3 separate regions of the Homo sapiens genome follow, and all the other regions are linked to region 3. The links come from fine-mapping of genetic effects on gene expression. A gene starts in region 3. Each other region holds a variant in brackets. All regions are shown on one strand. Distances are between the middles of the regions.

Region 1 (10,522 bases), 64 kb after region 3:
GGGGGGGCTGGGAAAATCCCAGGGGCAGGGAGCAGGAGCTGTGCCCTCTGCTGGGCTGAGAGCATGGCCTTGCTCAGCTATGCTTCTCACTGTCCCTCCCCAGCCTCTGTGGACTCCCACCCACTCCAGTGCAAATCAGGACTCAGTGGAAGACGTCAGGAGAGTGGACATGCAGGTTTTAGAGATCCTCCCTTTGTGGGTTCCCCTTCTCCGGGGTTTTCTCCTCAATTTTCAGTAGTTTGGGCAGCTGTGAACTCCATCCCCTGACTCCTCAGGGTATGAAGATGATGACATTTTGCTTGATTTGCACCCTGTGCACTGCAGGGTCTGGCAGTTTCTTCCAGAAAGCCGAGTAAATGCAGATTCTACCTCGTGCACCTCCCTTCTTGTAGGGGTGTTCTCCTGTATTCGTCTGTTCTCAAATCACTATAAAGAAATACCCAAGACTGGGTAATTTACAAAGAAAAGAGGTTTAATTGGCTCACAGTTCTGCAGGCTGTCTAGGGAGCATGATGCTGGCATCTGCTCAGCTTCTGGGGAGGCCTCAGGAGACTTACAATCATGGCGGAAGGCAAAGGGAAAGCAGGCATGTCTCCATATGGCCAGTGCAGGAGGAAGAGAGAGAGGGGCAGCGATTTTCTTTCTCAGTGTTATGGAAAGGATGATGCCTCCTGCTGTTTACTTAGATTTGATAAAATGCGGTGTCTCCCCCTGCCAGGGTGCTGAAGGAGGGTCCCATGCTGAGACAGCCACACCTACCCAATATCCACGCCTCCCCTCATTCCCAGCTGCCTGTGTTAGCTTGGGCCACAGGTCTGGCTGATGGTCTGTGAGTAGAAGCGATGCCACTGTGCCCTGTCTGGAGATGCCAGGGGCGATGTGTTCTGGGTGGGGAGTCAGCAGATACAGGGGCAGGGGGCATGGGAGTGAACCCCACCTTTACAGTTAGAGCCACGGGGCCCTCTATATTTGTCGGGGACTGGTGGTCCCTGCGTGGTCCAGTTGCCCAGAGGAGGTACCCTTGAGCTGGAGCTTGAGAGGTAAGGGGGTCCCTCGTGGGAGGTGAGTTTGTCTTTTCCCCTCTCTGTGGTTCTGTGGCTCCAGGTGCAGCAGGGGCAGATACAGCTGCAGCAGGGGCAGCTGCAGCAGTGGCCTTCAGCCCAGGAGGAGGGGCTGGAGATTCAGTTCCCCAGGAGCTTCAGAGTGTGGCCATCAAGGAGGCCTGGGTTAGAGGTGGCCTCCTGAGATGTGGCTCTGGGTTCTAGGGTCCTGGGGCTCTGGGGTGAGCTGTGAACTCCCATCCGGCACAGGAGACTTGCCCCAACACTGTGCTGAGACACTTGCCCCATCTTCAGCCTGGGCCCCCTGCCCTGGGCCGTGTCTCTAAAGGTGACCCCAGCCCCTGAGCTGAGGTGTTGTACAAGAAAATGCAATGCTGCCAAACCGCAGCCTGCCTGGCCAAACCCTTTCCAGGAATTGTCCTCCTGCACCTGCCATACATTTCTCCATCCACGGAGCCTCAGGCCTTTGCCTTCCCTCTTCTTCAACCCTCCAATTTTGGTTTCGTCTCTATTCTCCCTTTAGAATTGAGTGTGGGGGTGGGCAGGGGTGAGGTCGTGTGTGTTGGGGCGTGTGGGGTGGGGAGGGAGGGGAGTGTCCTGAGGGTCGATTTAGTGTGTCCTGAGGGTCGATTTAGTGTCATGCCTCTTTCACCACCACCACCAAAGATGAAACCAACAATAAACTAAATACCGTGTGTTCTCATCTATAAGTGGGAACTAAATAATGAGAACAGTGGGCAGAAAGAGGGGGATCACAGACATGGGGACCTACTTGAGGGAGGAGGTTGGGAGGAGGGACGGGTTCAGAAGAAAACACAAAACTGTCAGATGCTACACTGAGTACCCGGGTGATGAAACAATCTGCACCCTGAACTCCTGAGTCAGGAGTTTACTATATAACAAACCTGCACATGTACCCTTGAACAAGAAATAAAAGCCAAAATAGAGAGAGAGCTCTCAGCCTATGGGCGCAGTGGCTCATGCCTGTAATCCCATCACTTCGGGAGGCCAAGGCAGGACGATTGCTTGAGTTCAGAAGTTCAAATCCAGCCTGGGCAACATAGCAAGACCCTGTTTCTATGAAAAAAATTAAAAATTAGCTGGGAGTGGTGGCATGTGCCTGTAGTCCTAGCTACTCTGGAGGCTGAGGCAGGGAGGACTGCTTGAGCCTAGGAGTTCCAGCCTGGGCAATGAAGTGAGACTCTGTCTCTAAAAAAATAAAAACAGCTGGGTGCGGTGGCTCATGCCTATAATCCCTGCACTTCAGGAGGCTGAGGCGGGTGGATCACCTGAGGTCAGGAGTTCGAGACCAGCCTGGCCAATATCGTGTAACCCTATCTCTACTAAAAATGCAAAAATTAGCTGGGCTTAGTGACGTGCACCCATAATCGCAGCTACTCAGGAGGCTGAGGCATAAGAGAGAATCGGTTGAACCTGGGAGGCAGAGGTTGCTGTGAGCCAAGATAATGCCACTGCACTCCAGCCTGGGCAACAGAGCGAGACTCCCTCTGGAAAAAATAAATAAATAAATAAAATAAAATAAATTAAAAGCCCTAGTCCCCTTAGTCTTAGCTGAGACTCAGCTCAGTGTGTCCTGGAACCTCTTCCCCACTCCAGGGGTCTGAATGAAGCCAGTCTTGCCACCTTTCACAAGTGTCTGGCAGGCACTGTTTACTTTTTTTTTTTTTTTGAGGCAGAGTCTCACTCTGTTGCCCAGCCTGGAGTGCAGTGGCGTTGACCTTGATTCACTACAACTTCCACCTCCTGGGTTCAAGCAATCCTTGTGCCTCAGCCTCCCGAGTAGCTGGGATTACAGGTGTGCACCAACATGCCCAGCTAAATTATTTTGTATTTTTAGTAGAGACGGAGGTTTCACCATGTTGACCAGGCTGTTCTTGAACTCCTGGCCTGAAGGGATCTGCCCTCCTTGGCCTCCCAAGGTGCTGGGAAGACAGGTGTGTTTCCTGTGATGCTGGGACCCCCACCCTGTGCTGTAGCACCCATAGATAGAACCACTTCCTCAGTGTGGGGGTGAGAACGCTTGGGAAGCACTGTATGAGGGAGCTCTGCCCTGGGCCAGAAACCCGGATGCAGCCCTGCCAGGCCCCCAGCTGTGGGGCAGGTGGTCGTGCCACTGCTCAGTGGATCCAATTGAGTGCCTACTGCATGGCCGGCAATTCCATGTGCTGGGGATAGAGTGACAGCAGAGGTGATGGCTTGTGCATGTGCAGGGCGGGAGGTGGCCTGTGGTGGAGCTGGCAGGTGGCCTGAGGGGACCCCTGGTCCATCGGGGGATGTGGGGCAGGAGAGACCCCACCCCCAGTTGGCCCCTGCAGTTCGAAGTCTGAGAGATGGTATGTAGGCTGCTGCTATTAATAGCAGCATGAGCTCTGGGACCGGATGTCCTGGGTTCAAATTCCAGCTCTGCCTCAAAAACTTGCAACCTTGGGGAAGTCACTCAACTTCCTGTGCCTCAGTTTCCTCCTGGGAAAAATGGGGATGAGGATAATCTTGGCAGAGGATTGTTGAGAAGGTTGAGTACATTTGGAGCCTAACAGCTTTAGCGGGCACTTGGCCACTGTGAGAACTCAGTGAGGGTTAGCGATTTCACACAAGGGCCTTCTCACCAGGCTCCGGCAGACGGGACATTCCTTTGCTATTTGAGATGTTTTTGGACTCTTCCTCTCCCTCTTTGCCCCTTTCCCTTTTCCTTTCCCCTTCTTCCCTTCTTTCTTCTTATGGGGAGCTAGCTGGGAGGTGCTCAGTTGGGGCCCTCAGTGACTGGAGTCTCAAGGGCTCTGCTGCCATCGGCTGTGAGCTCAGCAGCCCCTGTCCTTTCTGGGCCCCAGCCTCTCCATCCAAAAACCAGAAGGCTGCCTGGAAGGTTCCAGAAGTTGCTCTTGGTCCTGACCCCTGCCCACATCTCTCTGTTGAGAAGACTGGTGCCACTCTGGGGACAGCTGGCTTCCCGCCTCTTCCCGGGTCCCTGGGGAAGTAACTCCTCTCCCAGGAGGAGACAGACAACTGGTCCTCTGAGCAGCAGCTGAATTTTACAGAAGGGCTATTGATTGTTTTGTTCAAAGAGGGAGAATAAATTTGGTTCTGTGAGTCATAACGTGACATTCTCCAAAATGGTTCTGACCCATAAAACGGGGGCTCCTGTTGATATCAGCCCTGAAGGTTAATGGGTGTGTTTTCAGAATACTCTGCCAGGAATGACTCCAGAAACTGCCCTGAGTGCATCCATGGGAATGGTCCTCGGGACAGGCAGCCGCCATGAAATAGACACCCTGCCCTGCCTTCTTCCTGTTGGTGTTTGTTGACCACATCTGCAATCCTCTGATGAAGCAGGGGGTCAGGTGGAGGGAGAGGAAGCTTCTGAATATTTCTAATCTTCAGCTGCTTAAAAAACTACAACGAACTTAGTGGTTTCAAGGACACATATTTAGCTCATGGTGCAGTGGGTCTGAAGTGTGAGTGCAGCTTAGCAAGGTTCCCTGCTCACGGTCACATCAGGCTGCAATCACGGTACCAGCCAGGGCGTTGGTCTCAGCCGAGGCTCAGCTGGGGCAGGCTCTGCATCCACACTCACCAGGATGTTGGCAGTATTCGATTCCTTGCTGGCTGTTGGCCAGAGACTTGTTGTGCCTCAGTTTCCTCTTTGGCAAAGTGGGGTTGATTTTTCCTGGCCACAGGCCCTCTCCCAGGGCCAGCTCACACACAGCAGCACAACCAGTTATGATCTTATGCAAGGCTGTCAAGGAAGCAGTGCCATTGCCTTGGTGGATGCTATTGGTGAGACGCAGGTCCCAGGTCCCAGCTCCCAGATCCCGCTTACACTCAGGGGAGATTAATCAAAGGTGTCAGTGCCAGGAGGTGGGGAACATGGGCCACTACAGGGTCTGCCCACCACTCTCTGGATTGGCCCAAGACCACTTCTTCTTCACCCTTGAACACACAACAGACACAGGCACACACAGACTCAGCACAGGCTTGAATACCATCGGGATGAGGTAATGTCATGGGTTGAGGGGGCGTTCCCCACCCCTCACCTCCCACATGAGAGGCAGAGGCCAAGGTTTGGTTTCTGGCTGTGACCCTGGGCTGCTTTCCCACTGGGTCTCTGCTTCATTATCTGTAGAGGGAGGACTTGGACTTGGCAGGGGTTCCTGGACAATTCTCAGCCAAAGAAACCCGACCCCTTCCCCAGGCTGCAGGAGCCGCATTTAGGGGTGTTCTCCCGCTCTGCACACACACCCTTGAGGGTCTACTCCATTCACCTTGCAAGGCAAGCTGTCCCCTACAGCCCCGGAAAGGGTGGCACTCTATCCCAGCAGACCCTAGGCCGTGGCTGCAGCAGTCGGACCGGCTCAAGCATCTGCCCCGGGGAAGCAGCCTAAAGCAAGAGAATCACCCACATGGGAATCCGGACCCAGGTGTGGAGGACACTGGGCTGACAGTGTGCACAGGGCCATGCACCCACCAGCAAGGGACACAGCACTCGGTCCCAGAGGTGGCCTCTGTTGTGGCCCCAGCCTGCAGAATGATCTCAGGCAGCCACCCGGATGGAGGGTTTGGTGGAACTCCTGGGCCACATACCTCAGAGAACACAGCAAAGAGTCAGCACCCAGTAAGGTGCAGAGAACTTTCCACCCCGATGCCCACACAGGGTTCCTGCCATCAACGGGAGTCAGGTGGTCACAGGGCTTCTCTTGGGAACAGAATTCCCGTCCAGAAGCTTCCTCTTCT[C/G]TTGCTTTGGCCTGGGCCCTGGCTCCCAGTTCTGTCCTATGTCCCCGCATCTCTGGCTGTTCTTCAGTGCCCTGGTTGCTTCCCCTTCACCCTCCTAAATGTTGGAGTTCCGGAAGGCTCTGAGCCCCTCTTGTTCTTATCCTCCTGGCTAGCTTCGTCTCCAGCAAGCCCTCACACGCACCTCGGTGCCAAGGCTTGCAAACCTCAGCCTGTCCTGGCCTCGCTCCCAAGCTATGGGACAGAGCGTCTCCCCCGAGGCTCCCGAGCCTGTGGTGCCCTCTGCAGTCCCCGCACCCGTCCACACCTGCTCTCTCCTGCTCCCCCTCCAGCCTCTGAGCCTCTGAGGTTGGTGGGCATCTTGGTGGTGGCTGCTGGGAGGGTCTCAGGGCGGGGCAGGGGCTGCATCAGGGGTCTGCACTGCATGGAATGGACATGGCATGGTGTAAGCCCCTCAGCCTGAGATTCAGCACCATTTCCATGCTGCTCATGTCCCCACCTCCTCGGCTTTCCCCATGGCCCACCTAAGTCTCCTGCGCTCCTGCAGGGCTGAGCAATGGCCCCCATTCACTAAGGCAGGGAATCCCCTCTGCCCGTGCCTGCTCCCTTCCCCGCCAGGTACCCGCGCCAGCTTTACTGCCTTCCCTCTTCCTCCCGGGCCTGCGCTGCTGCCCTCCTCCCCTGGAGCTGTGCCAGCTCCAGCTTTTCAGCCAGCAGCTCCTGCCCCGCCCCACTCATTGTGTCCAGACCTGGGCTCCATGCTGACCCCCAGCGTGTACGGAGCTCCTGCCATTCCTTGGGTGTGGACCTGTGCCGAGTCTGTAGTGTGCACAGGTCCTGCCAATCCTTGGGTGTGGACCTGCGCCAAGTCTGTATCCACCTTCAATAGCTCATCTCTTCCACCCGGGAGGAAGTTCCCTTCATCCTCCCTGTGGGGAAGAGGGCACTGAAGCTTGGCAGAGCTCTTCCTGGGGTCTCAAGGGTCTGCTCCAAACCCTTGCTCTTGCCCCTGTCACAACCCAGGCACCCTGGCTGCACCTGCAAACTGCACTCCATGGTGGCAGCCCTGCCCTGCCAGTGCCAGCCCCGTCTGCCTCACCACCCCAGTCCCTGAGCTCCCTGGGGCTGAACGCCACTTCTCTGGATTCTAAATAGGCCCCCGCAGGGTACCTGTTGCTGTATCTACCACTTCCCCCAGCCTCCTGGTCTGGGTCCTGCTGATTCTGGTCATTACTCACCTTCTGCTCTACCCACCCTCCCCTGCATGCTGCCCCCAGCCGCAGAGGAATGCCCCCTCCATGTCCCACTCCCTCCACCAACAACAGCTGATCTGTCCTTTCTCCTGGCTGCGTGACCTCTCAGGAAGAGGCGGTGCTACACTGAGGGCCCTGGCAGCCTCTCTAGGTCCCTGTCCCTCACCTTTCAAAGGAGAGATAGGACAGAGGTGGCAGAAACTGGCTGGAGCAGGCTTCTGTCCGGGTGCTGCTCCGGCTGTGACTCCTCACCCCTCAGAGCTGCATCTTCCATCTGCGAACAGGAGGCTGCAGCCCCTGAGGAGGTGGCATCTCTGCCTGTGGGAAGTCAGGTGCACTGAGGCCAGATGCAGGGAGGGTGCTCCAGGCTCAAGGGTGCAGGAGGAGCCTCCTGCCCTGGGAGGCCAGCACTCAGCCCCAGCTCTGCCACCTTGACCTCCCAGCACCTCTGCAGCCCGGGCATCCTAGTCTGCAAGACGTGGTAGGGTGGATGGAGATCCCCAGGGTTCCTCCGTGGCCCTGGACAGGCAGCCGGTGTGGGGGGCATGAGTCACGCCCTGTGGGGGAAGGGGAGCAGCAAATGTGCCTGCCCTCCGCTGCACTAGCTGCACTGTTTCATGCCCATGCAACCCTAAGAGATGGGAGTCCTCACTGTCACCCTCTCATTCAGATGAGGAAGCAGAGACAGAGAGGCTGAGACACTTGCTCAAGGCCACTGATATGGTTGGGCTCTGTGTCCCCACCCAAATGTCATCTTGAATTGTAATCTGCAGGTGTTGAGGGAAGAACCTGGTGGGAGGTGATTGGATCACAGGGGCGGTTTCCCCCATGCTGTTCTGGTGATAGTGAGGGAGTTCTCATGAGGTTTGATGGTTTTGTAAGGGGCTCTTCCTCCTTCTTGCACTTCTGTCTCCTGCCACCATGTGAGATGTGCCTGCTTCCCCTTCCACCATGATTGTAAGTTTCCTGAGGACTCCCCAACCATGTGGAACTGTGAGTCAAGTAAACATCTTTGCTTTATAAATTATCCAGCCTTGGGTATTTCTTCACAGCAGTGTGAAAATGGACGAATACACACAGCAAATCACAGCACCATAGTTGGGGACGAGGGCTGTGTGGCCCTGAGTATGTGCTCCTGATGAGGACATGGGACACCAGCTAGAGAAGGGGCACTCCCTGCTCTCATGGGGACATTCACAAGGAGACCTGGTGCTCAGTGCAATGTCTGGGGACCTCCTTGAGACCAGGGCACGTGGGTGTCACAAGCTGCTGAGGGGCTGTGCCCTGCTGACACTGCTGAGGGCGCTTGGAGTGCAGAAATATTTTCAACAGAAGTGGAGCAGAAGGGATTTCTCCTAAACCCTCTGTTACCCAGAAAACGGCATGGACTGGAATTCCGCATTTCTTTAACAGTCTGTTTAGCCAGATCCTGACTCCACCAAAAACAAAGAAGCCCTCAGCCGCCTGCTGGGGTGGGAGGTAGTGACTGTCCTTCCAGCCCGGGCACCACTCCATGCTCATTGCTGATTTGGCCTCACTTAACCTTTGGTGCTGGGCTCTGCCGCATTCCAGGGTCCCTGTGTGACCTGGGCAGCCCCTTCCCCCCTCAGCCTGGGGTCCTCTCGGGCTGGGAGGTGATGGCTCTGCCCCAGGGGGAGCGGGCCAAGTGCTACGTGTGCACTTCTCTGTGGAATTCTCACCTCCTGGGCCAGCCCCTGGGCGGAAGGAGGCTGCTGGCCCCGCGTGGCCTGCCCTGTTGGAGGCTCCGCCAGAGCCCACGTCTGCAGTGCTTGGAGCCATTTCTTGGCACAAATATAAAAACAACTCCAGCTCTGCCGTGCTCCAAGTGAGAAATGCTGCTTGGTGAGCTGGGCTGGCTGGGCTGCTGGCCCTCGGTCAGCCGCCTGCAACAGGCAGGGCCACGGGAACCTCATCAGCAGAGCTTCCTGGAGGCAGCGTGGGTGGAATTGTGGAATTGTCATCAGACAGGCCTGGGATGGAGCTTCCCCACTGGAACGCAGCTGGCTGTGGACAGGGAGTCAGCTGCTGCCTGAAGGGACAAGGAGGCCTGCGACCACAGCAGGTTCCCACCTGGCCTGGGCCTGGAGGCCAGCAGGCACCTTTCAGGGCTTCCCAGCTCAGCCCCCACAGCTGGATGGAGCTGTGTTCCCTGCAGAAGTGTGGCCGGCTCCGAGCAGGCACAGGGGGCTCTTTCCCTCCACCTCAGCCCTGGCCTATGTGGGCACAGCAGAGGACGTGCTCACACCATGGGGGCCCCCGACCAGGCGAGGCCAGGGCGTGTCCACATTGGGGAAGTGAACGAAGAAGGACAAGTCTATTTGAGGGGCTGGCTGATAGTTTAGAAGCCCAGAATCGCCTGGCAGTGAATTATTCTGCTGAGTAACACTGTACCCAGAGGGATGTGGCTGAAAACCCCGGGAGGGAAGGCTGCGTGCGGGAAGCACTCCCATCCTCCCCCAGCGCCTGCTCTGGGCGTTCCGGAGCTCAGCGTGCATCCTTGCCTGTGGGTTCTGGGACCATCCTGCCATCTCCCTCCCCTTTCTTTCCCCTTTCCCCTCCTTTCCTTTCTCCTCTTTCTCCTTCTTTCTGTTTTCTTCTTTCCTGGCTGAAGCCAGAATTCATTTCTGTTACTTGCATCCAAAAAGTGTTCAAACAAGCATGCTTGCTGGGATCCTGGGTCCTGCCCCTGGTCACCTGGAGGCAGGGCTGTCGCTCCATGTACAGACAGGAGTCCAGGAAAAACTTGAGGAGACACAGCGTGTTCCGGCCCCCGCTCCTTCACCCCTGCCCCGTCCCCCAGTGACAGATCCGGCAGCAGGCAGAGCCTTGAGCCCAGAAAGCCCAGGCCCCCTGGGAAGCTTAGGTGTGGCCTCACATCTGGCAGTTTTTGCTTTGATTTGTTTTGTTTTGTTTTGTTTTGAAATGGAGTTTCGCTTTTGTTGCCCAGGCTGGAGCGTGACGGTGCAATCTTGGCTCACTGCAACCTCCAGCTCCCAGGTTCAAGTGATTCTCCTGCCTCAGCCTCCCGAGTAGCTGAGATTACAGGTGCCCACCACCATGCCCAGCTAATTTTTGTATTTGTAGTAGAGATGGGGTTTCACCATGTTGGCCAGACTGGTCTCGAACTCCTGACCTCAGGTGATCTGCCTGCCTCGGCCTCCCAGAGTGCTGGGATTACAGGCATGAGACACTATACCTGGCCTCACATCTGGCAAGTTTTACAGCTCAGGTTTCTGTGTGGGGTCCTGAGGCAGCCCCTGGGCAATTTCGTATGGCTGTGGGAGGGTGAGGAGGGACTTTCAGGACGTGACCTTGTTATTAGCAGGGGCTGCGGCTGGAGGTTGGCCTGCCGGGCCCTGAGGGTGGGTCTGGGTGCCATGGGTTGTGTCTGTTGTGTGGGTTATTGGTTGGGCCTGGGGAGCCCATGGGAGTCTCCAAGCC
Region 2 (10,522 bases), 86 kb before region 3:
TTCTGTGATGGTTAGGGTTAGGGTTAGGGTTAGGGTTCATGTTAGGGTTAGGGTAGGCTTACCTCACTGCAGAGCCAGAGAACACACCCCCGTAGGGGAGCTGAGGGAGGTCTGAGCCTCCAGCTGCTGCCTGTTTCTCCATGGGTCCTGGTGAGGGTGGACCACCCCAAGCCTACCTTGAATCTGTTCCTTGACATGCTCCTTAGATTGAGTCTTTAAAACCCTGCCTGTCCCAAGTACTCAGAATCAGAAAGAATCACCCAACTGTGTTCTGTGGCACCAGGTATCAATTCCCTGTGTACCTCCATGGACTCAGCGCCATCTCAGAAGTGAGGGCGGAGGGAAGGAACCTTCTAGAAGGAGGAGTTTGCTGCAGAACATCCAGAGCCCACAGCACTGAGTCGTCTCCATGCCCCTTGCCTGTGGTTCTCTGTAGCACATGGCAGGGGGGTGGGTGGTGCAGCACCTCCTTCTGATGCGTTGAGTGTCAGCACTGCAAGGTCCCCTACCCCATGCCCAGTGCCCAGTGCCCAGTCCCGTGGGAGCTCCTCATTTGGGGCAGAGACCAGGGCAGAGGCAGCGAGGGCTCCTCTCCTCCCTCACTCAGGGGCTACAGGCTGGTCACTTGAGCTCTCTGGAAATCAGTCTCCTCATCTGGAAAACGGGGCTCATCCTGACCTTGTGATGGGCATGAGGTGATGGTATCAGATAATGTGCGCGAACGACCCTGTAAATCATAAATTGGTTGCAGTTTCTCTCCAGCGACACCCTAGTACACTTTGGAGCCTGGTGAACTTGAGTTTGCATGCCAGCTCCTGACCTCCTATGGCCCACGTCCTCACTGGAGGATGGGCTCTGGAGGCTGGAGGGCTGGTGGAAGAGGAAGTGAGATGGCAGTTCGCTGGCTTCTGCATCAGGCCCCAACTGTACCCTGGGCCTCCCAGGCTTGCACGTGCCTCCTCACAGCTTCCCTTGAACATCCTGTATCATCCAGCAGCCCTAAACCGTGTGATTTTTTCCTCTGGGAGGTGACAGCCTGGACCAGAAGTTGAAACCTGGCCCCAGGGTATGGTGTGCCCCACTGTCAGAGGGACCTCAGATGAGCCACTAAGCCTCTCTCTGCCTCAGTTTCCTTATCTAAAATGGGTGGAATCAGCTGGGCGCCGTGGCTCATGCCTGTAATCCCAGCACTTTGGGAGGGCGAGGCGGGTGGATCATTTGAGGTCAGGAGTTCAAGACCAGCCTGGCCAACATGGTGAAACCCCATCTCTACTAAAAAAATACAAAAATTGGCTGGGTATGGTGGCGGGTGCCTATAATCCCAGCTACTCGGGAGGCTGAGGCAGGAGAAATCACTTGAGCCTGGGAGGCAGAGGTTGTGGTGAGCTGAGCTCGTGCCACTGTACTCCAGCCTGGGTGACAGAGCGAGACCCTGTCTGTAAAATAAAATAAATAAAATAAAATAAAATAAAATAAAATAAAATAAAATAAAATAGGTGGAATCATCTGGTCCCTGGCTGGGCTCACAAAAATCCCACAGGGAATGAATGATTATCAGTCTACTGGGGCTGCCATAGTGGGGTTCCACAGACTGGGGGCTGGAACAACAGACATTTATTTTCTCACAGCTCAGGGGGCTGAGAGTCTGAGACCAAGGTGTCGACAGGATTGGTTTCTCCTGAGGCCTCTCTCCTCGGCCTGCAGATGCCACCTTCCCTCCGTGTCCTCACCTGGTCATCCCTCTGTGACTGTCTGTGTCCTCATCTCTTATAAGGATACCAGTCAGACTGGATTAGAGCCCACTCTGATGACCTCACTTTACCTTAATCACTTTTTTTTTTTTGACACAGAGTTTTGCTTTTGTCACCCAGGCTGGAGTGCAATGGCGCGATCTCAGCTCACAGCAACCTCTGCCTCCTGGGTTCAAGTGATTTGTCTGCCTCAGCCTCCCGAGTAGCTGGGATTACAAGCATGTGCCACCGTGCCAGGCTAATTTTGTATTTTTAGTAGAGATGGGGTTTATCCATGTTGGTCAGGCTGGTCACAAACTCCCTACCTCAGGTGATCCACCCACCTTGGCCTCCCAAAGTGCTGGGATGACAGGCGTGAGCCACCGCGCCCGGCCTAATCACCTCTTAAAAAGCCCTGTCTTGGCCAGGCGTGGTGGCTCACGCCTATAATCCCAGCACTTTGGGAGGTAGAGGTGGGCGGATCACGAGGTCAGGAGATAGAGACCATCCTGGCTAACATGGTGAAACCCTGTCCCTACTAAAAATACAAAAAAAATAGCGAGGCGTGGTGGCACACACCTATAGTTCCAGCTACTCGGGAGGCTGAGGTAGGAGAATCCCTTGAACCTAGGAGGCAGAGGTTGCAGTGAGCCAAGATCGCACCACTGCACTCCTGGAGGTTAGGGCTTCAACATACAAATTGTAGGGGGATGCAACTGAACCTGTAACACCTTGTGTGGTCATCACTCCAGGGAAGGATGTAAAGAGCTAGGACTCCCACAGCATTGTGTTTGCAAAGGAAGACCCGGGACCTTCAAGGTCTTTGTTGCTGACCTCCTCTCCCTCAGGAAAGGCAGAGGGTCATCTCCTCCCTGGAGTGGCTTCTCCCATGCTGACCTCACTTCTGGGAGGGGCCAGGAGGAACCTGCCTGCGTTTCTGAAGCCCAGCTCTAGCACATTTCACCCAGAGGCCAGGATCCCATGCAGAATGCCAGAGGCTGAGGGCAGCGGGCCGACCTCCCTTGGCAGTTTCAGAGTCTTTCTTCAGTGCTCTGTTATTTTATACAGGATTCCTATATGCGAAAAGAAATGCATACCTTACAAAATTCCTCAGTTACTGTAATTGGCAAGTAAGGATCTCTGGAAAGAGCATTTGCTCATTTAATAGGACTGGAAGGGAGCCGCAGCTTTTTAAATTTTTTTTCCTGGTGATGGTTTTTAAAGAATTTAAAATGCAATGATATTGCAAGGAAGAGTGGACTTTTCCCTGGTTGGCAGACTCCATCTAGCCATGGCATACTGCAGCAAGATTTCTGCGGCTGCCCACACGTCCTGCCTGGTGTAGAGGTGGTTCCGTCCAAGCTCCTCGGCTCACCACTGACCTCAGCTGAGCCCCTCACGCGCGGGTCCTACGAGAGGCACAGCAAGGAGACACCCGTCCCTGGTCAGGGGAACAGAGGGGAGCCGGCCCCTCATGCACAGCCCATAGTTGGGGGACAGCAGAGCCCATGTCTCCTGTGGGGAGGGCAGAGACCCACACTGGTTGGAGTGGCGAGGCCATGCCTGGAAGTCCGGCACTGGCGCACTGGCCAGCATGGCCCCCTTCCTGCTTCACCATCTAGACCTGCCCAATTCATTCCTTTAATTCATTAACTCACTTCTTCATTCACTCACTTCACTTGTTCATCATTCCCCCATTCCACTCCAGGGCTTGCTGAGTGCTTTCCCAGTGTTTGTGTGCGGCCCTGTGCTGGGAGCTGGAGACAGGGACCCTCCAGACCTGGGTCCTGGGCTCCACGAGCTTCCAGGCCGCTGAGAGGAGTGGCCAGGCCCAGTCAGTGCTGTCCTGAGGGCTGGGGCTGCTGCAGCCAATGGTGACAGAGGCCCACCAAGTGATTCCTTCTGGAGAACAGGCCATGGCTGGGTCGGAAGGTGACAGGCTCCTGTGACCCTGACGCCAGGGGAAACTCGAGTCTTGCCGCCTATACTATGTTCACATCCACACAGAGGCTGCTGGTCAGGGACGTGGGGAAGGGTGGGGAGGGCACAGAGGGGGAGCGCCTCCCAGCCGTCCTGGGTTGGGAAGGGCTAGATGGCCAGGTGTGTAGGGGTGGTGCTCACACAGATACAAAGGCCAGGCTCCGCAGGGGCCAGGCCTTCTGTGCAGGACTGGGATGCGCAGACAAGGGTCCGCCCAGAGCTCACACTGTGGCTACCCTAGATCCTGAGAAAGCCCCACACTGAGGAGGGAGAACCGGAAGCCGAGAGCAGAGCCGGCCTGGGCACACACGGGCAAGGACACAGAGAACACAGGGCGGGACTGTTGTCCTCACCTCAGCAGCTTCACCAGCGCACGGATGGCCCCTCCCCTGCCCCCAGGGACACTGACCACCCCCCTTTCCTCCTCAGAATTCAGGCCCAGTGAATAGGCAGAGGTCCTGAGACTGTGGCCATCAGAAATGTCTAAGGGTACAAGAAGGAGTACAGTTTCCTGGGCCCAGCTCCTAGGGTCCAGTCTAGCCACAGCCCCTCTGTGTGCTCAGGACTGTTAGAGACTTTCACATATATTATCTCAGCCTATGCTTAGGACTCTGGAAGGCAGGTAGTTCTACAACCTTTACATAGGAGGAAACCAATTTGGAAAGGTTAAGAAACATTCCCAATGTGCCACTTCACAGCAAATGACAAAGTTAAGATTTGAACCTGGGCCTAACTCCCAAGCCTGTCTGCTTTATACGCTCCTGTGCCATGTCCCGAAGGCTGGCAGAAAAGACATCGACCAGGGTCTTTAAGGATGATGACGTAGGAAAATCTTCCTAAAAAATTATTTTGTTTTTAGAAGCCTTGCTCTGAAGCAAAGAAAAAAACAATTCAAGAGATGTCAAGAATTTTTGGCAAACAAATAATGCATCGAAGAACAAACACCCAGGGAGGACGCGTGGGCAGCTGTTCTTGGGTTGTTTTCATTCCCCAAGTGCTCGGCCCTGTAAGACTAGATGTGTATTTTCTCTTGCAAAGCAAACAGTTCAGCACAATGTGGGCCTCCTTGCTTGAAAGAATTCAGATGGAGCTTGTGAACCACATAAAAGGTTGAGCAAACCTTGTTCCAAACTCAGTGCAGTGGCTGGGCACAGAGCCGCCCGGGACTGAGCAAACCTCCTCGTCTATCTCCTAGGCAAGGGTGTACATGGAGGGGGTGAATGGAGGAAGGTCCTTCCACAAGTCACTGCACATTTTCCCTTCACAACACAACACGGGGCTCCCACTGACCACTGCAGAGCTGGGGACATCCTCCTCCAAGCTTCACAAAGCAAACCAAGTCCCTTCCTGGGCGGCTGCTGGACAGCCTGGTGGGATGGAAATGAGCTGAGGTCAGTCCCTGCACTTGAATGGGTGCAGGTGGGTGGGGCCTTCCTGGAAGCCACAGGAACACCGGTTTCTGGGTTCTCATGCAGAGTGGCCCTGACTTCCCAGATTTAGGATCAAAGCCCAGAGCCCAAGGGAAACCCTCTGATGTAAGCTGCATGACAGCAAGTGGCCCCAGAGGGGAATGCAAAGGCGAGAGTGCCGGGGACCAC[G/A]GCACAGCACATGCGGCACAGGCCCGCCCAGGCCAGAGACTGAGCGCATCTTCCCCTCCTCACATGGAGAGTAGAGGCTCCGGCAGGGCCACAGCCCCCCAGCTGGGTTCTTCTGCACGTGCCTGTGGGGCCAAGCAGTCCCCACCGTGGCCAATGCTGGGGCTCCGTGCAAGAAGTCTGTCGCACCCTGCCCAGCTGCCTCGAGCAATTAGGAGGCGGCTCCCACACCAGGAAGGCCACCTCCAAGGTTCCTAGGTCTGGTCCAGAGAGACAGGATGCTCACAGGCAGGCAGCAAGTCCAAACAGAAGCCTGGGCTCCACTCGAGCCATGGCCCCAGGGCTCAGGAGAGCCACCCAGGGTGGACGGAGTCGCATCTGTGCATGCCCACCTTGCACTGCAGAGGGACCCAAAAGTGCTCTGCCCTGGTTTTTATACCCTGGGCACCACTGGGCTCACCGAGCAGACGTGTTGCAGAGTATCCTATCTGGGAGGACCAAGGCCACACCCTGGGCTGTTCGGGTCATTTCCTCCTTTTTCCAGGGTGTTGCATTCGGTCAGTTCTGCAGGAGAACTGCAAGCCAGAGAGGGAAGAGTTGTCGTCCATCCAGGGCCCTGTCCTCCTGCAGTCACGGCCTGTAGTTGTGCTTCCACTGTGGTCCGTGATTCCCATGGCATGCCCCACTCCATAGGGTGGCTTTGGTCTCATCGTGGTGGCACCATGGCTGAGGCCACCTGAAGCTCCTAAGTGTCCAGGGCAATGTCCCCCGGAAGTGAGAGGCCACTTCTGTCCCAACGTCCCCAGCCAGTCTTTAAGACTCAACAGGACCCTTGGACTTTGCCTCATCACTGAGCCAGTCCTTGGGGCCAAGGGAATGGAAGGTGCTAGGGCACTTCAGCTAAGGCGAACCAGTGCCAGTGCTGGGGCAGGGCAGCTTCCCAAGGCTTGGGGCTGTCCACATCTGGGGAGAAATCTGGACAGAACTGGGGTTCTGTTAGTGAGGAGGAAGGGTTGGAAGTTGGACAGGAAGCCCACAGGGTCCACCACACAAGGAGAGAAGCCAAGACCCCCTGACTTCCAGGGGACCCATGGCTGGGGCATGCTTCAGATGGGGACACGGCCCCATGGGACCCATGAAAAGCCTGTGAAGTGTCTTAGTAAAAGGCCCACATGAACAAAGTCAAGGAGGAAGGCAGTTTCTGGTGACGAGGAGGTGGTCCTATGGCACATGCTGTCCCCACACAGTGCTACGTGTAGCTAGGTGTTCACTAAATGCTGGTCAGATGGACACTCCCTGCTGGCCGGCAGCCCAGGGGCTGGAACCACCTAAAACCTGGAGGGTGGGGTGGATACACAATGATGGGGGAACGTGATTCACGCTTGGGCTGAGCCGTCAGAAGTGCATCCAAACCAAGTTTCCAAGAGGCTGCTCCATGTCAACTACACATCCTAAAATGAAAGAGTTCCCACGCCTCCGCCACCATCAAGATCCTTAGCAGTGACAGCCGCAAAGACCTCAACCCCAAGATATTTCTGGGCTTTCACAGATGATGGGGTCTGGCTGATTTTTATCTTCTTCATCCGCCTGTGGTTTTGAGATGTCTCTGCAGGCATGCATCCCAGCTGGCCCCGTGTAGCCGCAGGAAGCTCCCTCTGTGTTTAAGCTCACAGTGAGAAACTTCTCTCATTCTGCAGGCATCTCCCTTGGTGAGTCACAGAGATTTCTGGCCACGGGCACAACCATGGGCACACACTTGTGTCCACTGCCAAGCAAGACTGTCTTTCCAGTCCACCGTCCACATGGCATCAAACTAATACGAAGGCTGAAGGCATTCCCATAATGGCAGACACCAAGCAATGGTTCCCCAGCATGGTGTGAAAGATTGATCCCGCAGGGCCAGCAGATGTCATTAGACAGGAAAGTTAAATGACGGGTAAAAGTTTTGGAAGGTGTATTAGTCCGTTCTCACGCTACTATAAAGAACTGCCCAAGACTGGGTAGTTTATAAAGGAAAGAGGTTTAATTGACTCACAGTTTAGCATGGCTGGGGAGGCCTCAGGAAACTTACAGTCATGGCGGAAGGGGAAGGAAACACGTCCGTTTTCACATGACGGCAGGAAGGAGAAGTGCCAATTAAAAGGAGGAATGCCCCTTATAAAACCATCAGATCTCATGAGAACTCACTCACCATCACAAGAACAGCATGGAGGTAACTACCCCGTGATTCAATTACCTCCCACCAGGTCCCTTCCATGACTCGTGGGGATTATGGGAACTACAGTTCAAGATGAGATTTGGGTGGGGACACAGCCAAACTATATCAGAAGGGTAAGGGTAAACCATCACTATTTGCCAATGATAGAGAAGGAAAACCAAAGAGAATCAATGAAAAACTGTCATAATTAAAATAAGGTTTCAATAAGGTGACCAAAATAAACATACAAAAATCACACAGCTTTTTATTACAAACAGCTTGAAGAAATAGTCTTAGATGGGAAGACCACTTACCATGAAGACAAAGATTCTCCTGATGTGAATCTAAAAGTTAAACAAAACCTCCAGACAAACTCCAGAGAGCATTCTTTAATATGGGGGTGGGAGAATGCCCAGACTTGACAAATAACACCAAAGTTCACATACATAAGACATTTTTGGAAAAGATGAGAAACGAGGCTTTATTTGCTCCAACAGATATTAAAAGTATGAGAACCACAACCATGAAAACAACAGAAGCTGATGTGAGAAACAACACTAAAATTAAACAGTGCAGACACAGGTCCAGCGACAATGATTTTAGCACTCATACAGGTGGCATTTCGGTCAGTGCATGATGATTCAGTGGGCAAAGCATTTCAGATCCTTGTCTCATATCACACCTCGAAATACATTCCTGGTCAATTAAACACTGAAACGTACTCAGAGAAAAAGAGATGAAAGTGTAAATAATCTTTGTGTGAGAAAGGACTTTCCAAGCATGACCTCAAAGGCTAGAGCATAAGAGTCTTCGTTTTAAAATGTGCAGGCATTTCTGATTTAAAAATGTAAACTATAGCAGGTTACATCAAAAAGGAAAAAAATACAGTTAAATGGCAAATGATGCATGAGGAATAATGATTTACAGTGAATATGTTACAGGTTTGCTGTGCTTAATATGTACAAATATCTTACAAGCCAACAAAATATTTTCAAAACTAAATGCCTTCTTAGATAGAGAACAAGAATGGGCAGTTATCACAGCAGAACATATATGAACAGACTTCAAGCACGGGGGAAGGTATGTTCAGCCACAGTAGGGGCAATAAGAAGGAAATCTATACAGAAGACACCAATTTTATGTTCTCATCAGGTCGGCAACAGGCAGAGAACAAACAGGCCACTGCTGGCAAGACTCCTACATTCTAGAGGGAATGAGGGCTTCCTGTTGAACATGCTGGGAAGAGGAGACTTACCATGTGCTGTCTGCAGGCCGGGCTTTGTTGCTTTCATGCATTAACCCGTTTTAACGCCAACAACAGCAGGATGAGGAAGATTCTCTTATTCATTTCATCAGTGAGGGAAGTCCCACATCCAATAGACAGTGTAGCTGGTGTCCATCCAGGAGCCTGCCCTAGACTCTGCTCCCTCATCCCCACTTGTGGCTCTACCTGCCCCACTGCCTCCCACACTGCTGGTATAAGAAATCTCCCCTGTGCAGAGCATGTCTCAGCAAGCCACTGGGACCAACTCACGCACAGTGATGCATGTGCACGGATGGCTGCCACGGAGCAGAAGCCTTGATCTCTCCATCTCTCAGGAGGAAGTTTGCTAAACTTGTACATTCATGTTACTTGACTGGGAAAATGGCTGTGCCATCACTTTAAGTGGAAAAAGATGTCCACAGAGTATGACCCATTTCTGAAAGGAAAACCACACACACGTACACAGAGGAAGAAAGTGTGCAGAATGGTGTACGCTAACATGATCCCGGCAGGTGAGAGGAAGAAAGTGTGCAGAATGGGGAACACTAACCTGTTCCTGGCAGGTGAGGGGAAGCAAGTATGCAGAACTGTGCACGCTAACATGATCCCAGCAGGCGAGAGGAAGAAAGTGTGCAGAATGGTGCACGCCAACATGATCCCAGCAGGTGACAGGAAGAAAGTGAGCAGAATGGTGCATGCTAAGATGATCCCAGCAGGTGAGAGGAAGAAAGTGTGCAGAACGGTGCACACTAACATGATCCCAGCAGGGGAGAGGAAGAAAGTGTGCAGAACAGTGCACACTAACATGATCCCAGCAGGCGAGAAGAAGAAGGTGAAGTGAGCAGAATGGTGCATGCTAAGATGACCCTGGCAGATGAGGGGAAGGAAGTGTGCAGAATGGTGCATGCTAACGTGATCCCGGCAGGTGAGAGGAAGAAAGTGTGGAGAACGGTGCACGCTTACATGATCCTGGCAGGTGAGAGGAAGAAAGTGAGCAGAATGGTGCATGCTAAGATGATCCCGGCAGGTGAGGGGAAGAAAGTGAGCAGAACGGTGCATGCTAACATGAAGCCAGCAGGTGAGGGAAAGGAGAACAGTGCACACTAACACGTTCCCAGCAGCTGAGAGAAAAGTGGACACCAGGGCCAGGAGACGGGGGCCCTCGAGGGGAATGCAGGGAGGACTCTGGGGCAGGGGCAAATCACTGTCAATGTTCAGCTTCAGTGCTGGGTGCAGGAACACTGGCATGAACCAAGGAGTACAATGAATCAAATTCTGGGCCCCTGTGGCCCAAAAGTAAATCAATTAAATTGGAGGGGCAACTATTTCTCCATGTGGAGTTATAAGTGATATCTATTTTCATCTTTAAAGTTTTCTACATTACCAAAATAGTACCTAATAATCACGTTAGTTTTACAATCAGAAAACGGTGGCAGCAAGCAATGACATTAAACTGAACATTTTTATTCCAATTATTCAAGTTTTTGCTGCACAGTATTTTCAAATGTTTTATTTTCAAAATGACTATTACAAAAAATGTAGTTTCCAGAATGTCATGGCTACACCTCAACCTACTCCACTCTTGCAGTGGGGGCAACAGCTTTAGGAGCAGGGACCGTGTGTGGGGGCTGCACCCTTGCAGTGCGTGGCCTGGACACGGCCCAAGCCCTCCGCCGCCCACAGACAACACTTTCACATTGATAAATATGCATGCCCATCAAATCCTGCTGTAAACCAAAACTAAAATTCTAAGTCC
Region 3 (10,172 bases):
GGAAAGAGAGAAAGCAAAAAGTTAGAAAGAAACAAAAGTAAGATAAATAGCCAGACAACCTTGGCACCACCACGTGGCCCTAGGAGTTAAAATAATAATAATAATAATAATAACATCAACCCCTGACCTAAACTACTTGTGTTATCTTTAAATTCCAGACATTGTATGAAAAAGCATTGCAAAACTTTCTGTTCTGTTAGCTGATCCATGTAGCCCCCAGTCACGTTTCCCACACTTGCTCGATTTATCACGACCCTTTCACATGGACCCCTTAAAGTTGTAAGCCTTTAAACAGGCCAAGAATTTCTTTTTCGGGGGGCTCCGCTCTTAAGCCACAAGTCTGCCAGTGCTTCCGGCCGAATAAACCTCTTTCTTCTTTAATCCGGTGTCTGAGGAGTTTTGTCTGCAGCTCGTCCTGCTACATTTCTTGGTTCCCTGACTGAGAAGCGAGGTGATTAAGGGACGTTCAAGCCAGCCCCTTAGGCAGCTTATGCCTGCCCTGTAGAGCATCCCTGTGGGGGGCTCCAGCCAGCTTGCGCGATGCAGATCCTGAGAGTGCTCCCGGGTAGGCATTTGCCCCCGTGGAATGCCTCGTCAGAGTGGTGCATGGCAAGCCCCCGTGGAGGATCAACGCAGTGGCTGAACACTGGGAAGGAACTAGCACTTTAAGTCTGGACATTTGAAACTTGGTAAGACTGGTCTTTGGAACTTGCACACTCCATTTGAGTGGAAGCGTGGCCTGATCACCCATGGCGTGCCTGTACCGGCACTTTGGTTTTTGTTTTTGACTTGACTTGAAATGCTTGATACTTTGGTTTTTGTTTTTGACTTGACTTGAATTACTTGATAAACAGGCGTGCCTTTATTGGCACTTTGGCTTTGGTTCTGATTTTGACTTGGCTTAAATTCCTTGACAAACAGGTGTGCCTTTAATGACACTTTGGTTTTAGTTTTGATTTTCCTTTAGTGTGAATTAGACGAGTGAGTAACCTTTTACCCTTTCCTTCTTGTAGTGTGAATGTTGTTTTGTCTCAAGAGAAAAATAGGTCAAACACAAAGTAAGCCCACTCCGCTAGAAACTGTGTTAAAAAAAAATTTCAAGAAGAAAAATAAAAGGAAAGTCATCTAATCATCAAAACTTACTCTATTAAAATGCATGTTACAGAACCTTAAGAAAGGTTTTGCAGGGGATTACAGAGGTTAAGCCCCCAGAGGTTAAGAACTCTATGTGAATTAGAATTGCCCTCTTTTGCTGGGCGCGGTGGCTCACGCCTATAATCCCAGCACTTTGGGAGGCCGAGGCGGGCAGATCACGAGGTCAGGAGATTGAGACCATCCTGACTAATAGGGTGAAACCCCATCTCTACTAAAAATACAAAAACAAAAAATTAGCCAGGCGTGCTGGCGGGCACCTGTAGTCCCAGCTACTCAAGAGGCTGAGGCAGGAGAATTGCATGAACCTGGCAGGCGGAGCTTGCAGTGAGTGGAGATTGTGCCACTGCACTCCAGCCTGGGCAACAGAGCGAGACTCCGTCTCAAAAAAAAGAAAAAAAAAAAAGAATTGCCCTCTTTTGGTGTTGGATGGCCCACCGAAGGAACTACAGACAGGGAACAATTGGCCATGTATTTAAGGTGGTGACAGGGGTTGGAGGACAGCCAGTGGACCTAGATCAATTCCTTTATATTGATTCATGGTTAAATATAATATAGACAAAAACCAGCATAAATTTAGCCCTGTTTAACAGCTTATTGCAAAAAAGCCAAAAGTGAAAGTAAGAACAGCTGCACCAGCAGACACAGAGTTGAAAAGGGGAGTCCCAGAAAGAGCAAGAGAAGCCAGTTTTGCAGGAGCCGCCAGAGATAACAGAAATTCTTTCTCCATATGGCCCAGCCTACCCCCCTTTACCGAGGCCAACAGCCCCCTGAGAAACGAGATTAAGGAGCTAACATGCCCCAGGTCTCACCTTGAAGGGGAAGATCGGAGCCTCAAGAGGCCAAGGAAGGAAGTCAAGATAGTCAAGTGGGCCCTCTCAGATCTGGTCTTGCTGGAGCTATGCAAATGCCTCTCAGGGAGACACGAGGACCTGTCTATTATAATGACCAAGCCCACATCCAGGGGGTGGGGCAACAGACTTTCATCTATCAGCCCTTTTTAACCATTGATCTACTAAACTGGAAACACCCTGAACCCGCCACCTTGTTCCCAGCAGCTAGAGCCCTGTCGAGCATTAACTGTGTAGAGGTGTTGGACTCAAGTTTACTCTAGCAGACCTGACCTCCGAGACCAGCCTTGGGCATCAGTAGACTGGGAGCTATACATGGACGGGAGCAGCTTCATCAACCCACAAGGAGAGAGATGTGCAGGATATGCAGTGATAACCCTGGACACTGTCGTTAAGCTGAGCTCATTGCTTTAATTCAGGCCTTAGAACTCAGTGAAGGTAAGACTAAACATTTACACTGACTCTCAGTATGCCTGTTTAACCCTCCAACTGCATGGAGAATTATATTTAAAAAAGGGCCTGTTAAGATCTAGGAAAAAGGGGAAAAAAGACCCAGAGAATGCAACTCAGCTTCAGCATTTGCAGCAGTACTAAGAGGCACTTCTGCAGAGGCTAAGAGGTAGTAGAAAAAAAGCAATTAATATAAAAAAGATTTCAGAAGTGCTTCAAGGAGCTGACAAGAGCCTAAGTCAGTTTTATAAGAGACTCTGTAAAGCATTCTGGCTTTACATCCTATTTAACCCTGAGGCTGGTGGCTCACGCCTATAATCCCAGCCCTTTGGAAGGCCGAGGTGGGCAGATCAAGAGGTCAGGAGATCGAGACCATCCTGGCTAACATGGTGAAACCCTGTCTCTACTAAAAAAAAAAAAACACAAAAAAATTAGCTGGGCGTGGTGGCGGGTAGCTGTAGTCCCAGCTACTCGGGAGGCTGAGGCAGGAGAATTGTGTGAACCTGGGAGGTGGAGTTTGCAGTGAGCCGAGATCACACCACTGCACTCCAGCCTTGGCAACAGAGCGAGACTCCATCTCAAAAAAAAAAAAAAAATCAGCATATATATATATTCGAAAAAATATATATAAATATATATATACAAATATATGTAAATATATAGAAATATATACACGTAAATATATATATTTACATATATATGTAAAAAAATATATGTAAATATATATATAAATATATATATAGTGAATACTTCGTTTGTAAAGCAAGCCCAGGGTAACATCAAGCAGAAGCTACAGGCATGAATATCACCCAGTCTATAAAAGTGGCCACCAAGGCGTATGTTAGCTGTGACCAAGGAACAAAACAGGAAAGAGCAAAAGCAACAAGTGCGGCAGCTAGGCACGCCAAGGGTTAAATTCCTCTCCCCGGCTCAGCTCTATCTAGAAAAAAAGAGGAGGCTAGAGACCGGTGCCAAGAGAAGAGCAAAACAAAAAGAAAGACTCACAGTAAGTGTAAAAAAGAGAATCAGAAGAAAATGGGAGAGACAGCAGTGCGCGGGGGCAGGGCCTGTGCCACTGCCTGGCCCCGCCAGGTGGCCATAGAAGCAGGAGAACTCAGGAAGGAAAAAGAAAAACAAAGACTTAAGGAAAAAGGCCAATCTGTTAGCAACAGCTCTTATAAAAAGAGAGATTAGCAATGCGAGAGGACGTGGACACGGATGTAGACGTGGAAGAAGTCAAGTTAGGCAAGGATTCGAGAGCCGGCCAAGGCTAGAGAGACATTAATGTGTGAGATGAAAAAAGAAAGGACACTAGAAGGGTGAATGTTCAGAAGGCAATAAAAGAAATGGCCAAGGCTGCAAGACAAAGAGGCCATTGGCCAAGGGCTGCCGCACCTTGGAGGAACCAAATACTGATCTGATCAGGCTGGCAGGAGCTAAAGAATGTAAAGACTAGGGCAGACTAGGCACCTTCTTATTAGGCTCCCAGGAGCCCATTGTCACATTAGAAGTTAAAAGCAGCAGGATTCTGCCATATCTGGATTCCAATTTCTCACTGATGGCTAAGCCACTAGATAGAGTTACAAAGGGGGGAAAGAAAAAGAACCCCTCCTCTAAGAAACTTAAACAGGAAAAAGAGCCATACCTTGTGAAAACTTGCTTATAGACTTTACAGAACTGCCTCATGCTGGAGGCTATCGGTACATGCTAGTGCTTGTTTGCACCTTTCCAGGGTAAGTTAAAGTTTTCCCCACCAGGACAGAAAAAGTACAAGAAGTGACTAAAGTATTGTTAAAAGACATTATCCCCAGGTTTAGACTGCCTCTAACTTTAAAGTCAGACAATAGGCCAGCATTTGTAGCTGAAATAGGGCAGGATTTAACAAGACTGTTAAAAATAAAATGGAAGTTACACACAGCCTATTGGCTGCAAAGTTCAAGAAAAAGTGGAGTGCATGAACTGGACACTCGAGCAGCTACTGAAAAAAATATTGCCAGGAAATTCATTTAAGATAAAATCAGGCTTTTGCCTATGGTCCTCCTTCAAGTCAGCTGCACCCTCACCAAACAAACTAGGTATTTACCCTATAAGATTTTGTTCGGTCGGCCACCCCCAAATCACAGGTCAAATTAAAGGTGACCTCCAAGAACTAAAGGAATTAACCTTAAGAAAGCAAATGCAGATTTTAGAAATAGCCATACAAAGTGTTTATAATTAAATACATAAAAATGCCTATAAGCCTGACACCCCTTTAAATCTAGTGACTCTGTTTAAGTTAAAAAGTAAAATCTAATTTTTCTAGGACCCATATAGGATGGGCCTTATACTGTAATCTTTTCCACTCCCACTGCTGTTAAAAGTTGCAGGTGTTGTGTCTTAGATCCATCACAGTCAGCTAACACTGGCAGCTCAGGACAAGTAGACCAGCCAGCAGGACACAGATCTTCCTACCCGGCTGATTCGGAGACGAGACCAAGCTGTTGCTGAGGACGACAGCCCTGCTCTGGTCACTCCGGAGGCTGACCAGTCTACACACGGCTGAAGCTTGAAGAAACAACAAGCCCGGCTCTAGTCACGCACTGGCAGCTGAATAGTCTACGCATGGCCGAAGCTTGAGGACTTGTCAAGCAAGTAAACGTAGTTAAAAATCTTAAGACTAATAGTTTTCCTGTAATACTGTTTTCCTATTGTTCTGTCACTGTATTCAATCTTTTTCCCAGGTAAGGACCTCTTTTGTCCTTGCTGGATACAAATATGCTGTATATTGTTTTGTTATTGTTACCCCCCATAACCATGCTAGAAGAAACACCTATATAAGGTGTCCCCATTGTACACATACTACTTAGTCAGGAAACCCAGACCCGTCCAGCCCAGCAACAATTCCGAGTCTTTAAGTCATTCTTTAAACACATAAACCAGAAGTTACAAGAGCCTCCTCCTTTAGCAAAACAAACAAACAACCTATTTGCTCAGCTGGCTGAAAACATTGCCAGCAGCCTAGACGTTTCTTCATGTTATGTTTATAAAAAGGCTAACATGAGAGACCAATGGCCTTGAGAAGCAAAAGATTTAATGCCTCAAGATTACTTTAACTCTTTCCCCAAGCAGATGCCAAGTTCAAGCATTTGGCTCTTAAAAACTCCTATTATTAAGAAATACTGTGTTGCTTGCTAGGAAAAAAGCTTTTAAGACCCAGTAAAAAAACTAACCTGCTTAGGACATGACAAAGTTGGCACATGTGCCTGTACTGGTTTAACACAGGTTTGATCCTAGGTCTTTATTTAAAAGATAGTTTCCAGCTATAAGAGAATTTAAAACCCTCACTGCAAGTGTATTACATAAAACACTATCACTCTGTCTCCCAAAGAGACTCAAAGTAAAAATAAAAGCGAGAACTCCCACTAATTTGTGAAAATTCTCAAAGGAAGGGATAAGGAGACCACTACTACTCCTGCTGCCCTCCTCCCTGCCACCTTGCCTAGTTCATAAGACAGGAGGAAAAGAGAGAAAGCAAAAAGTTAGAAAGAAACAAAAGTCAGATAAATAGCCAGACAACCTTGGCACCACCACGTGGCCCTAGGAGTTAAAAAAAATAATAATAATAACATCAACCCCCGACCTAAACTACTTGTGTTATCTGTAAATTCCAGACATTGTATGAAAAAAGCATTGCAAAACTTTCTGTTCTGTTAGCTGATTCATGTAGCCCCCAGTCACGTTTCCCATGCTTGCTCAATTTATCACGACCCTTTCACGTGGACCCTTAAAGTCGTAAGCCTTTAAACAGGCCAAGAATTTCTTTTTTGGGGAGCTCAGCTCTTAAGACGCAAGTCTGCCGATGCTCCCGGCCGAATAAACCTCTTTCTTCTTTAATCCGGTGTCTGAGGAGTTTTGTCTGTGGCTTGTCCTGCTACAGTAGGTGACAGATGACTTTCATCCCTCATGGGACAACGTTACATCATTCTTATGAAACAGCCATGGCTGCACTCAGACTTAGGAAGGCACTGGCTGTAATGCCAGCACTAAAAGCAAACCAGAACCCAAGTGGAGAAAAGTTAGCTTTCATAAGAGGACTCATCTTTTACGTTCACAAACTTAGGCTCCCTGACTTTTATCGGTAATCAGTACTGAGGACAATGCGTTCCACACCCGCTGGCTGGCTGATGTTTGATTCTGTAACTATACCACGCCCAGAATTCTCTCAAAAGGGAATAAAACACAGGTCAAATTCCTCACCCACACACTCCACAGTTCAACCCCTGCCAGGGAAACCAAAAGCAGGAAAGGATCTCCAGCGGCGCCATTCTCATTTCCGGTCCCAGCACCCCGCCTCCATGACGTCAACGCGCCGCGCCACCGGGCTGCGTCATCTCGGCGCGCCGCTGCCAGGGCTGTACACCTGCTGGCTGCCATGGCTGAGGTGGGCCGTACCGGGATCAGCTACCCAGGCGCGCTTCTCCCACAGGGCTTCTGGGCTGCGGTCGAAGTGTGGCTGGAGAGGCCGCAGGTGGCAAACAAACGGCTTTGCGGCGCCCGCCTGGAGGCCCGCTGGAGCGCCGCCCTGCCCTGCGCGGAGGCCCGCGGCCCCGGGACTAGCGCAGGCTCGGAGCAGAAGGAGCGGGGTCCGGGACCCGGCCAGGGTTCCCCCGGAGGGGGCCCGGGTCCCAGGTCGCTATCAGGACCCGAGCAGGGCACGGCATGTTGCGAACTTGAGGAGGCCCAGGGCCAGTGCCAGCAAGAGGAGGCACAGAGGGAAGCCGCCTCAGTGCCCCTGAGGGACTCCGGGCACCCCGGCCATGCTGAAGGAAGGGAGGGCGACTTCCCCGCCGCAGATCTGGATTCGCTTTGGGAGGATTTCTCCCAAAGTCTCGCCCGTGGCAATTCGGAGTTGCTGGCCTTCCTCACCAGCTCCGGGGCGGGATCGCAGCCAGAGGCGCAGCGTGAGCTCGACGTGGTTCTCAGAACCGTCATCCCGAAAACTAGCCCACATTGCCCCCTTACAACTCCCAGGAGGGAAATAGTCGTGCAAGGTAAGAGTGTTTTGATAGTGGACGGATATGATTAGATAAAAAAGCATTCATAGAACCTCGGGTCAATGAAAAAGTCCTAAGGGTACTAGTTCCTCTGCGATGTCCTAGGGAGGTTGTTAGGTGTTTCATAGTTTTTTGAGTGGGCGCATAGAAATGTGTGTCCTTAGTACAGAAGATGGGATAATTGATTGGGGTGGTGTCTGGAAGGCTTCAAAGAGACAGTGAAGGACTAGCTGGATATTGCGTAATACCTAGGAGTTTAGCAGGTAAAGCTGTAGGTGTAAAAGTGTTGGGGACCAGCCTCAACACCACCCGTAGGGTACTCAAAGTCCGGTGGCGACGAAGGAATGAGACGAGACAGGTTAAGAGTGCATAAAGATTGGGGGCCAGGGGGCCAATTGCAAAATGGAGGCTGCCAAAGCCTGGGAGCTCTGGTCTCCACACTATTGAGTACAATCACTTAGATCTAAGAAGCGGACGTTCGGGGCGAAAGGGTGAAAGGGAGACAGTGCATCATACATGTCATCTATAGCAGTGGCGGTTTAAATGAATCTCCTTTGTGCTCAAACAGCGTTATCTTTAACTTGTCGGAGAATAACCAGTGGGAGCGTGCTTAACTAGGAGCCTGCATGTCTGACCACATTGTAGTGATTCAAAGGAGTGTCTTTCTCCTTGAACACAGTGTTTATAGGTAAGACAGTAGGTCTCGCCCAGAGCATGGGAACATCATGACAATAAGAAGGCTTTCCTCCTCAGAGGCCTCTTGTGGCTTTCCACAACTTATTGTCTCATATTTTTATGGCCAGTTTATACAGGCATGCCATAAGCCTTTTCCCCAACATAAAGAGAGCTATTTATGCTGAGACAAATAACTGTGAAAGAGCATAGAGACTGGATGGATGGGAACCTACTAGTCCTCAGCGTTCGTTAAATCTCTGGCATTTATTTTTACTGCCCGTGACCTTGACACTTCAGCCTCAGCCACTCTTACCTGAAACTTTATTCAGCAGCATGTGTTTCGTATTGCCACTGTAACAAATTACTGCAAATTCATTGGTCAGTACAAAAAATTGATTGTCTCAGTTCTGTAGGTTAGGAATCCCCATTGGCTCTGCTGGTTTCTCCGCTGTGGGTCTCTCTCACGAGGCCAAAATCAAACAGCCTGCCGGCTGGGCTCTTATTTGGAGGTTCTGGGAAGGAATCTGTTCTCAGGCTCATTCAGTTCGTTGGTAGAATCCAATTTTTTATGTAGGACTGGGGTCCTTGTTCCCTTGCTGGCTGTCAGTTGCTGGAGGCTTCTTTCTGGTTCTTTCATGCAGCTTCCTACATCTCAGAGCCAGCAATGGGGTTGAATTCTTCTCATACTTGGAATCTCTCTGCCTTCCTCTCCTGCTGCTTCTCTCCTCCGCCTCCAGCCAGAGAAAATTCTCTGCTCTTCGTGGCCCATGGAGTTAGGCCGGGCTCACCTGGATAATCCAGAGTACTCTTCCTCTTGAGGTCTGTAACCATAATCATGTTTGCAAGTGCCCCTTTTGCCATATAATACAGTATATTCACGAGTCCTGGGTATTACGGCATGGACACTTTTGGGAGGCTCTTCTGCCTACCTCAGGCAGCAATTGCTGGGAGGTACATAGTCCCCTCTGATGGCTCCCAATACTGTCTGCCTCTGTGCCTTTGTAAGACTCTAGGTGTCCTCTCCTCCAGGGGGCCTCTCTGCCAGTCCAGTCTAGTTTAGGAGTTCTTCCAGCTCTTATCAACTGTGTTCTAATCTTAACCATTTTACGTTGTCCATCCACTGGACTGAGGATTGGAGAGGCAGTGCCCGTGAGGCCTTCATGTGTAGACTTCGCTGAACAGAGGGGTAGGACAGAATTTTTTCCTTTCTTCCTCTCAGGGAGGCAGTTTTCCCTCTCAACAAGGAGTACGTTTTCAGGATTGCTTTCTATATTCAGTTCCCGCCAGGAAGGCTCACCAGAGGACTTGTATCCTCCATGGAATATAGACAGCCTGGCTTTGAATTTTGGTCTTGCCAATTACAAGCTGTATGGCTGTGGGCAGGTTATAGAGCCTCTCTGTGCCTCAGTGTCTTCATTTGTAAAATAGGATAATAATAAAATATCTTGGAGTTGCTGGAAGAGTTAAATGGAATTAATACATTGTAAAGTGCTTAGAATAGTTCCTGGCACATGGTAAGTGCCTAATAAATGCTAGCTGCTGTTTGTGTGAAGTGGAGATGCTCTTGCAACTTTTGTATATTTCTTGGCCCTATTCTGGGTAAGATCACGAAGGTCTTAAGAGTAATGTGACTGTTCGAGACCAGCCTGGCCAACATGGTGAAACCCCGTCTCTACTAAAAATACAAAAAATTAGCCAGGCGTAGTGGCAGGTGCCTGTAATCCCAGCTACTCAGGAGACTGAGGCAGAAGAATGACGTGAACCCGGTGAGTGGAGGTTGCAGTGAACCAAGATTGTGCCACTGCATTCCAGCCTGGGCAGCAGACGGGGACTCAGTCTAAAAAAAAAAAAAAGGAATGTGACTAAGAAATCTTAACTGTTAGTAGCAGGTGACAGGATGACATAGTGGTTAAGAACTTGACTTCTTTAGTTAAAGAACAGAATTCAGTTTGAGGCTATGTGGATTTGAGACAGATTACTTAATCTGTTGAACGCCTGGTTTTCTCATCTA

The links.
Region 1: its variant is fine-mapped to the expression of ACOX3 in whole blood (TOPMed, PIP above 0.99). The same link has a PIP of 0.9 or more in testis.
Region 2: its variant is fine-mapped to the expression of ACOX3 in blood mononuclear cells (TOPMed, PIP 0.98).

The regions. Positions count from the first base shown.
Region 1 is chr4:8,497,924-8,508,445 of GRCh38, forward strand. It overlaps a transcript of TRMT44 not described here. Among named protein-coding and RNA genes, the nearest start is that of TRMT44, 62 kb to the left of the region's middle. RefSeq lists enhancers at 728-1,228, 6,259-7,146. The variant C/G (reference allele first, on the strand shown) is at 5,811.
Region 2 is chr4:8,347,349-8,357,870 of GRCh38, forward strand. It overlaps a transcript of ACOX3 not described here. Among named protein-coding and RNA genes, the nearest start is that of LINC02517, 32 kb to the left of the region's middle. RefSeq lists an enhancer at 5,941-6,491. The variant G/A (reference allele first, on the strand shown) is at 5,309.
Region 3 is chr4:8,433,959-8,444,130 of GRCh38, forward strand. ACOX3 (acyl-CoA oxidase 3, pristanoyl) reads right to left here and starts at 6,765. Exons shown (of 18, transcript NM_003501.3): 1 at 6,690-6,765. TRMT44 (tRNA methyltransferase 44 homolog) reads left to right here and starts at 6,819. Exons shown (of 11, transcript NM_152544.3): 1 at 6,819-7,483. The coding sequence starts at 6,865. RefSeq lists enhancers at 1,529-1,868, 2,169-2,348, 6,653-6,892, 6,711-7,444 and silencers at 6,913-7,122, 7,173-7,232.